Linked DNA regions of Homo sapiens. The protein of the gene in region 2 purifies or fractionates together with the protein of the main gene of each other region. This does not show direct contact. Each region holds a gene or a part of one and is shown on either strand. Other genes may lie near its edges. The genes, in order: ASNS and FAM78A.

Evidence for each region.
Region 1: the proteins of FAM78A (region 2) and ASNS purify together in Homo sapiens (affinity purification with mass spectrometry, with the first as the bait; one large-scale study listed by BioGRID). This does not show direct contact.

What each region holds. Positions count from the first base shown.
Region 1 is NC_000007.14:97,862,131-97,865,950, reverse strand, and holds part of ASNS (asparagine synthetase [glutamine-hydrolyzing]), read left to right. Parts: intron 1-1,454; coding exon 1,455-1,692; intron 1,693-3,820.
Region 2 is NC_000009.12:131,259,449-131,263,268, forward strand, and holds part of FAM78A (protein FAM78A), read right to left. Parts: intron 3,307-3,820; exon of another isoform or gene 3,290-3,306; coding exon of another isoform or gene 3,243-3,289; intron 1,903-3,242; coding exon 1,374-1,902; 3' UTR 1-1,373.

The DNA.
Region 1 (3,820 bases), on a different chromosome or scaffold from region 2:
AAACACGCAGTTTATTTGGCGTTCCCTAGGGAAAAAAGACCCTCTCAGCCCGCTTCAGCTGCAGTATAACTTTTCTACACATGCCCGGATTTCCCCATGCAAGCACGCCCACAAAGGGTAATAGAATGGCACATGTTCAAGCTGGATACGCCATTGGCAGGATCCCCACAGATGGGACTTATGTGCATTATCCATTGTGTATTTTTGCTTATTTTCTGCTCTGTGGTGTTAAGATACTGAAAATGTCAAAAAGACCTGTAGATATTTCTATGAGCAGCAGTGATAAGGAAAAGTAGAAACACTTATAACACAGAAAGTCAAGCTGTAGGAGAAACTGGACTGTAGTATAAAGGTATAGATGACATGGTGAAAATGTGTGATAGAGATATTGAAGGACTAGAGCTACCTGCATTCATAACAGAACAAGAGGTCATGTCAGTTTATAAAATCAAAGAGAGCCTTCCAAGACAAAAGCCATTGTTAATGAAGCAGATGACTCTGGAGAAACATTTAAAAGTCATCTGGCCGAATGCCTCTTCAATCTCAGAGGACCCGCTTCCTAGTTGCTCAGCTGCTTCTGATGTTTCTTCTCACCTGAAAAAGGAAAAAAAAATACAGTGTATAGTAACCTTTTAATCAAAACGCAGCATTGTAGGTGGAGTCTGAAAGCCTGCCATTGTTTGTACAGCTGTTTAACAGCTGATGCAGGTATTCTGGTGATTCTACTATGCTACTTATTACTTTCTTACTGTATTAATGGTATGTCATATTTTATAAGCATATGAAAATGATTGCTCATCAGCAGCATAATAAATTCAGAGTCAGGAATGATGGTCAATGATGTCAAACAGCCACAGATTTTCCACATGGTAGCTGAGATAGTGACCCCTTTGCTTTCTGATGGTTCCATGTATGCAAACTTTGTTTCATGCACAAAATTATTTGAAATATTATATAAAATTACCTTTAGGTTTTGTGTATAAGATATATGAAACATAAATGAAGTTCATGTTTAGACTTGGGTCTCATGCCCAAGATATCTCACATATATGCAAATATTCCAAAGTCCAAAACACAAAACACTTCTGGTTCCAAACATTTCAGATAAGGGATACTCAATCTGTATATATATAAATATATGTATGTATTACATATATGGTATGTATATAATATACATTTCCATCCCTCCACAGGTTACTGTTCTGGCACATTCCCATTATGTTCTGTTTATCAGACTGCAACTAAAATTTTCATGGGTTCGGCTTTATGTTGAACAGAATTTGCAGAATATGAGTTGAAGCGAACCATAGTTTAATAATGCTGTGATTCTCCTAAATCACCAAAGTGCATGAAAGGATTATAGAGCTCAGAAATACTGAAGCATCTTTGCAATAAAAAATTATTAGTGAATGTACAAGGAGTCTAACATTTTGGTTTTGCTTTCGCTTCCTAAGATGCAACAGCATTTTGAATTTGAATACCAGACCAAAGTGGATGGTGAGATAATCCTTCATCTTTATGACAAAGGAGGAATTGAGCAAACAATTTGTATGTTGGATGGTGTGTTTGCATTTGTTTTACTGGATACTGCCAATAAGAAAGTGTTCCTGGGTAGAGATACATATGGAGTCAGACCTTTGTTTAAAGCAATGACAGAAGATGGATTTTTGGCTGTATGTTCAGAAGCTAAAGGTAATAATAAATTTTTCTATAGATTTTCATTATTGTCTTGGTTGTACGTTTTCTTTTAAATTATATTTGAAAATCTCTTAGAGAGCAATCCAGAATTTTACAAGTGACTAAGTTATGAGTCTTTACCTTTTTTTAAAAAAACAGAGGAGTTGTACTCTCCTTTTCAGCACTTAAATTCTGTAATCCTTGAAGGATGATTCTTTAGTGCAGTCGTTTATTTTTTGCTGTGCTAATATGCTCTACATCTAGCTTGATCTTAAGTGCAGTTTTAAGTTTTCCTGTGTCATACTATAATCGTAGGGTTGACTCTGCAATTATTGCATTGTGGTACTTTGCGCAGTTATAGCACAGCAAGTGTTAGGATTTCTAAAACAGCTTTATTGATAATTCACATACCATGTAATTCACCCACTTGAAGTATACAGTTCAGTGGTTTTTAGTATATTCACAGATGTTGGTAAACAACACTCCAATCAGTTTTAGGATTGTTTTTCCACCTCAAAAAAAACCAAATCAAATCCTATGCCCTTTACCTTAGTTTTTGCTGGCAGGATCAACTAGGTTTTTGTTTGTTTGTTTGTTTGAAGAGATGGGGTCTTGCTCAGTCGCCCAGCCCAGGCTGGAGTGCGGTGGTTTGATAGCTCAGTGCAGCCTTGAACTCGTGGGCTCAAGCGATTCTCCCACCTCAGCCTCCCTAGTAGCTAGGAGTATAGGCATGCACCACAACACCCTGCCTCCTGTGCCCTTTAGCTTTGAATTCCATCTCTCCATATCCATCAGCTGCACCCCTGCAGTTGTAGCCCCGGCAATCACCAGTCTTTCTGCCTCTGGATTCCCTATTCTGTATGTTTCATATGAACGGGATTATATATCATACCGGCTTTTGTGACTGGATTCTTTCACTTGGTATAGTGCTTTCAAGATTTGTCTATGCCGTAGCATGTATCAGTACTTACTTCTTATGGCCAAATGATATTCCATTACATGGATACACTGCATTTTGTTTATTCGCTTGTCAGTTGATGGACATTTAGGACATTATTTACCCCTTTTGGCTATTATGAATAATGCTGCTATAAACATTGGTGTACAAGTTTTTGTGTGGACATTTCCCTTGGGTGTATATCTAGGAGTAGAATTGCTGGGACACATGATAACTATGTTCAGTTGAAGAACTGCCAGACTAATTTTTGAAATGGCTGCATCATTTTTTATTCACTCCAGCAGTGTATTAAAATTTCTGTTTCTCCACATCTTCACAAACAGTGTGTGACTTTAATTCTAGCCATTCTAGTGTATGTGAAGTGGTATCTCATTGTGATTTTGATTTGTATTTTCCTGTTGACAGTGATGTCCAGCATCTTATCTTATGCTTATTGGCCATTTGTATATCTTCTTTGGAGAAATATTTGTTCAGATCCTTTGCCATTTTTTTTTCCTGTTAGGGATCATTTTATTTTAAAAACATAATAGACTTTATTTTTTTTTTTGAGCAGTTTTAGAAAAAATTGAGAGGAAAGTGCAGAGAGTTCACATATGCTCCCCCTACAGTGCCCCTGCCCAGTTTTCCCCACTCTTAACATCTTGCATTACTGTGCTACATTTATTAGATTTGATGAACTGATACTTATATATTAACTGAAGTTCATAGTTTACATAAGGGTTCACTCTTTGTGTTTTATAGATTTTTGGATTTGACAAATGTTTAATGCCATGTACCCACCATTACAGTATTATGTAGAACAGTTTCATTGCCCTAAAAATCTCCTGTGCTCCACTTATTCTTTCCTCCCGTCCTCTTCCTCCTAACCCCCCAGTCATTACTGATCTTTTTGCTTTCTCTCTCACTTTGCCTTTCCCAGAATGTCGTATAATAGTTGTAATCATATAGTATGTAGCTTTTTCAGACTGGCTTCTTTCACCTAGCAGTATACATTTATAGTTCTTCTGTGTTTTTTCATGGCTTGATAGCTCATTTATTATTATTATTATTATACTTTAAGTTCTAGGGTACATGTGCATAACGTGCAGGTTTGTTACATATGTATACATGTGCCATGTTGGTGTGCTTGCTGAATAATATTCCATTTGTTTGCATGCAATGCAATTTGTTTATCCATTCTTGAAT
Region 2 (3,820 bases):
CCCAGCCCTTGGCCTGGATTCACTTATTTGAGGACAGGAAGCAGGGGCTCGGCCGACTGCCTCCCAAGACTTCCCTAGAGCTTGGGTGCCTTCCACCTCCATCACTGTGGCACCCAGAGCCTGACTGCACCGTCCCGCTGCCCTGAGGGCCTGGGAGGGGCGCCCCTGAGAACGAGCCCTGTCTTGGCCCTTTTACAGTACACCAGGGGCCAGCCAGCCACAGGGGCCGGGGCCCACCCGATTCAAGTCTTAAAATGCCCTGCAAGAAGGGACGTGAATGCCTTCCTTACCTTTGAGACTAACATTGAGGCTGTGTGTCGGCGGTCCAGGTGGCCGGCCCCCAGGCATTTGGGACCAGTGTGGATGGAGAAGGAAAAAGCCACACACCTGGAGGAAGGGCCAGGGACTCAACTGGGGGTGGGTCCTGAGGACTGAGAGGGTGAAAATTCCCTGGGCTCACAGGAGCCTGCCTCTCTCCTCCTAGAGCCGCCCAAGGGAAGTTAAGGCTGCTGGGAAGAGAGGGGAGAAGAGGCCAGGCGACTGGTGGAGCCACCCCCCGCCAGAGCTCACAGCCCCTCTCCGCAGGTGCAGGGATACGACCTGGGGGTGGAGGGAGAGAAGGGGCTGTTCAGGCAGAATCTACCTGTGGTTTTATTTCTGCCAAAAAGAAAGAGTGAGCAGCTGGTTTCGGGTCTAAATGCCCATCCTCACCCTTCTCCCAAGACAACCGGGAAGAAGGGCTCAAGAGACTCTCGCGGGCGACCCCAACCCTCCCTCCACCTCTGGCAGAAGAGGAAAAGTCCGGTAGAAAAGAGATCCTGCTTTCTTTCTCCGATTGGTTTTCTTCCTTTCAATTCAGCTTAAGGCAAAAGTTTGGCAAAGCAAGTCTACATAAGGCCGCATGACAGAGGGCGGAGGGACCTGGGGGGAAGGCCGGCCAGCGCCACAAATCGGCAGCAGTGTGGATCTGTCTCTTTGATCGGGGGCTGGAGCTTCCCTCCTAATCAGCTCCCCCTCCTCCTGCCCCTGAGCCCCCAAAAGAGGAGTTTTTTTAAAAAACGGAAAAAGCAGTGTTTCAGGGAATCTGTTACAAGTGAGCGACTGAAACTGAGAAAAAGGAGAGGCAAGGAGACCAGAGGTCACCCTGAGGGCGCACGTGGGGTCTGTCTGTCCTGCTTAGATCTCCCCTCTCCCTGAAAGGAAGCAGGTGCCGAGAGCCGGGGAGGCCTTCCCGGGGGCATCAGCACAGTGAGATCCGCCCGCTGGAGAGGGTAGAATGGTTGTATCTTGCTGAATGACTGAAGAGTGAGTCTGAGTTTTGTTTTCAGCGGTATTATTATTTGTGAGTCTAACCTAGCGGGTGGTCCTGGCTGTCACCGGTGCTTGGGCGGGATCACCACCAGCGGCTGCCCGTACTTGGGCCGCCACATGAGGACCTGGGCATCGTTGGCATTGGGCTTGACCAGGGCGCTGGGCGGGATGGGCTCATTCTTGCTCAGGATTTTGGGCTGGTCCTGGGCGATGGGCTCCCGCAGCCGGGCGCGCTGGCCCAGGGGCCGGTTGGGGTTCACCTCGATGCTGAGCTGCATGCGCCAGTGCAGCGTCTGCAGGATGATCATGTCGTTGGTGGAGGTGTTGGTGGCCACCAGCCAGGTGGTGAAGCTCTGGTCCCGGTAGATATTGGTGAGCTTGGCCACGTTGCTCTCGCTGACGGGCACGGCCCATGTGACGCTGGGGTAAAAGTTGTCATTCATGCTGATGATGAACTTGGAGTCCCTCTTGGTGGGGCCCACGATGGTGCAGGTCTCTGTGGTGTTGCCGTACCAGGGGTAGTTCACCCCATCCGAGTCGCTGATGGCTTGGATCTTGCCCTCCTGGAGGTCGGGGAGCTCCCAGCTGGACCTGAGGACAAGGAAGGCCAGTTCACTCACTCGGTCACTCAAGGAGGGCTTTCTGTGTCCCCCTGGCAGGCCAGGGGCTGTCCTGGGCCCTGAGGATGGAACGGACCCAGCAGACCACCCGGTCCCCTTTGACGTTCTGGGGGCAGGGGGTCAGACAGTAGCTCGGAGTCACTGTCATCACTGCTGCTGTTACAATCATAACCCTCAGACAGAAGAAGGTGGCCGGCCTGGCCCAAGTTGCTCTAGGGACATACAGATCCCACACTCCCATGTGGCCATGGATATAGTAGCATCTGGGAGCCCACCCCAGACTGTAGGGGCCCCTTACTTTAACATTACAGGCTCACAGACAATCTTCTCCATGCAACCCCACCCGGCAGATACAGAAAGTGAAGTGGTGGGCTGGGGGTGGAGAGTGAGGCTACATTTTCCTAAGGACATTTGGCCAAGCGGTGGGGCCTGGGACCCCGGCGCATTTCCACCAAGGCACCTGTAACAGGGAAGCTCAGGACACCCTGCGCCCACTGCGCCTTCTGCTCACCTACGTGCACAGCGGGTACTCCCAGGAACAAGCTACTGTTAAAAATGCACTCCTGGCCGGGCGTGGTGGCTCACACCTGTAATCCCAGCACTTTGGGAGGCTGAGGCAGGCTGATCACTTGAGGTTAGGAGTTCAAGACCAGCCTGGCCAACATGGTGAAACCTCGTCTCTACTAAAAATACAAAAATTCACTTTGGGAGGCCAAGGGGGGCGGATCATGAGGTCAGGAGTTTGAGAACACCCTGGCCAATATGGTGAAACCCTGTCTCTACTAAAAAAAATAGAAAAAATTAGTCAGGCATGGTGACATGCGCCTGTAGTCCCAGCTACTCAGGAGGCTGAGGCAGGAGACAGAGGTTGCAGTGAGCCGAGATCACGCCATGCACTCCAGCCTGGGCGACAGAGTGAGACTCTGTCTCCAAAAAAAAAAAAAAAAAATTAGCGGGGTACGGTAGCAGATGCCTCTAATCCTGTAATCAGGAGGCTGAGGCAGAAGAATTGCTTGAACCTGGGAGGCTGGGTTTGCGGTGAGCTGAGATTGTGCCACTGCACTCCAGCATGGGTGACAGAGTGAGACTCTGTCTGCAAAAAAAAAAAAAAAGCACTCCCAACTGGACGCAGTGGCTCACACCTCTAATCCCAGCACTTTGGGAGGCCGAGGCTGGCCAACACAGTGAGACCCTACCTCTAAAAAAAAATGCATTCCTGTTCCTAGAATTAATCACAATAGCCAAAAGGCAGAAGCGATCCAAGTGTCCAACGACAGATAAATGGATAAACAAAATGTGCTACATACGTACAATGGAATGTTCTTCAGCCTTAAGAAGGAAGGATGTTCCAACACAGGCTACAACACAGATCAACCTTGAGGACGTTATGTTGAGTGAAATAAGCCAGCCACAAAAAAACACAAACTGTGTGATTCTACTTATGTGAAGTCCCTAGTGTTGTCAAATTCATAGAGACAGAAAGTAGAATGGAGGTTGCCAGGGGCTGGGAGAAAGAGGAACGGAAAGTTGATATTTCTTGGGGACGAAGTTTCAGTTTTGCAGATGAAAAGAGTTCTGGGCTGGGCGCAGTGGCTCACACCTGCAATCCCAGCACTTTGTTAGGCCGAGGCAGGTGGATCACCTGAGGTCAGGAGTTCCAGACCAGCCTGGGCAATACGGTGAAACCCTGTTCTACTAAAAGTACAAAGATTAGCCAGGCATGGTGGTGGGCACCTGTAATCACAGCTACTCAGGAGGCTGAGGCAGGAGAATCGCTTGAACCCAGGAGGCGGAGGTTGCAGTGAGCCGAAATCACACCACTGCACTCCAGCCTGGGCGATAAGAGCAAGACTCCATCTCAAAAAAAAAAAAAAAGAAAAAGAAAAGAG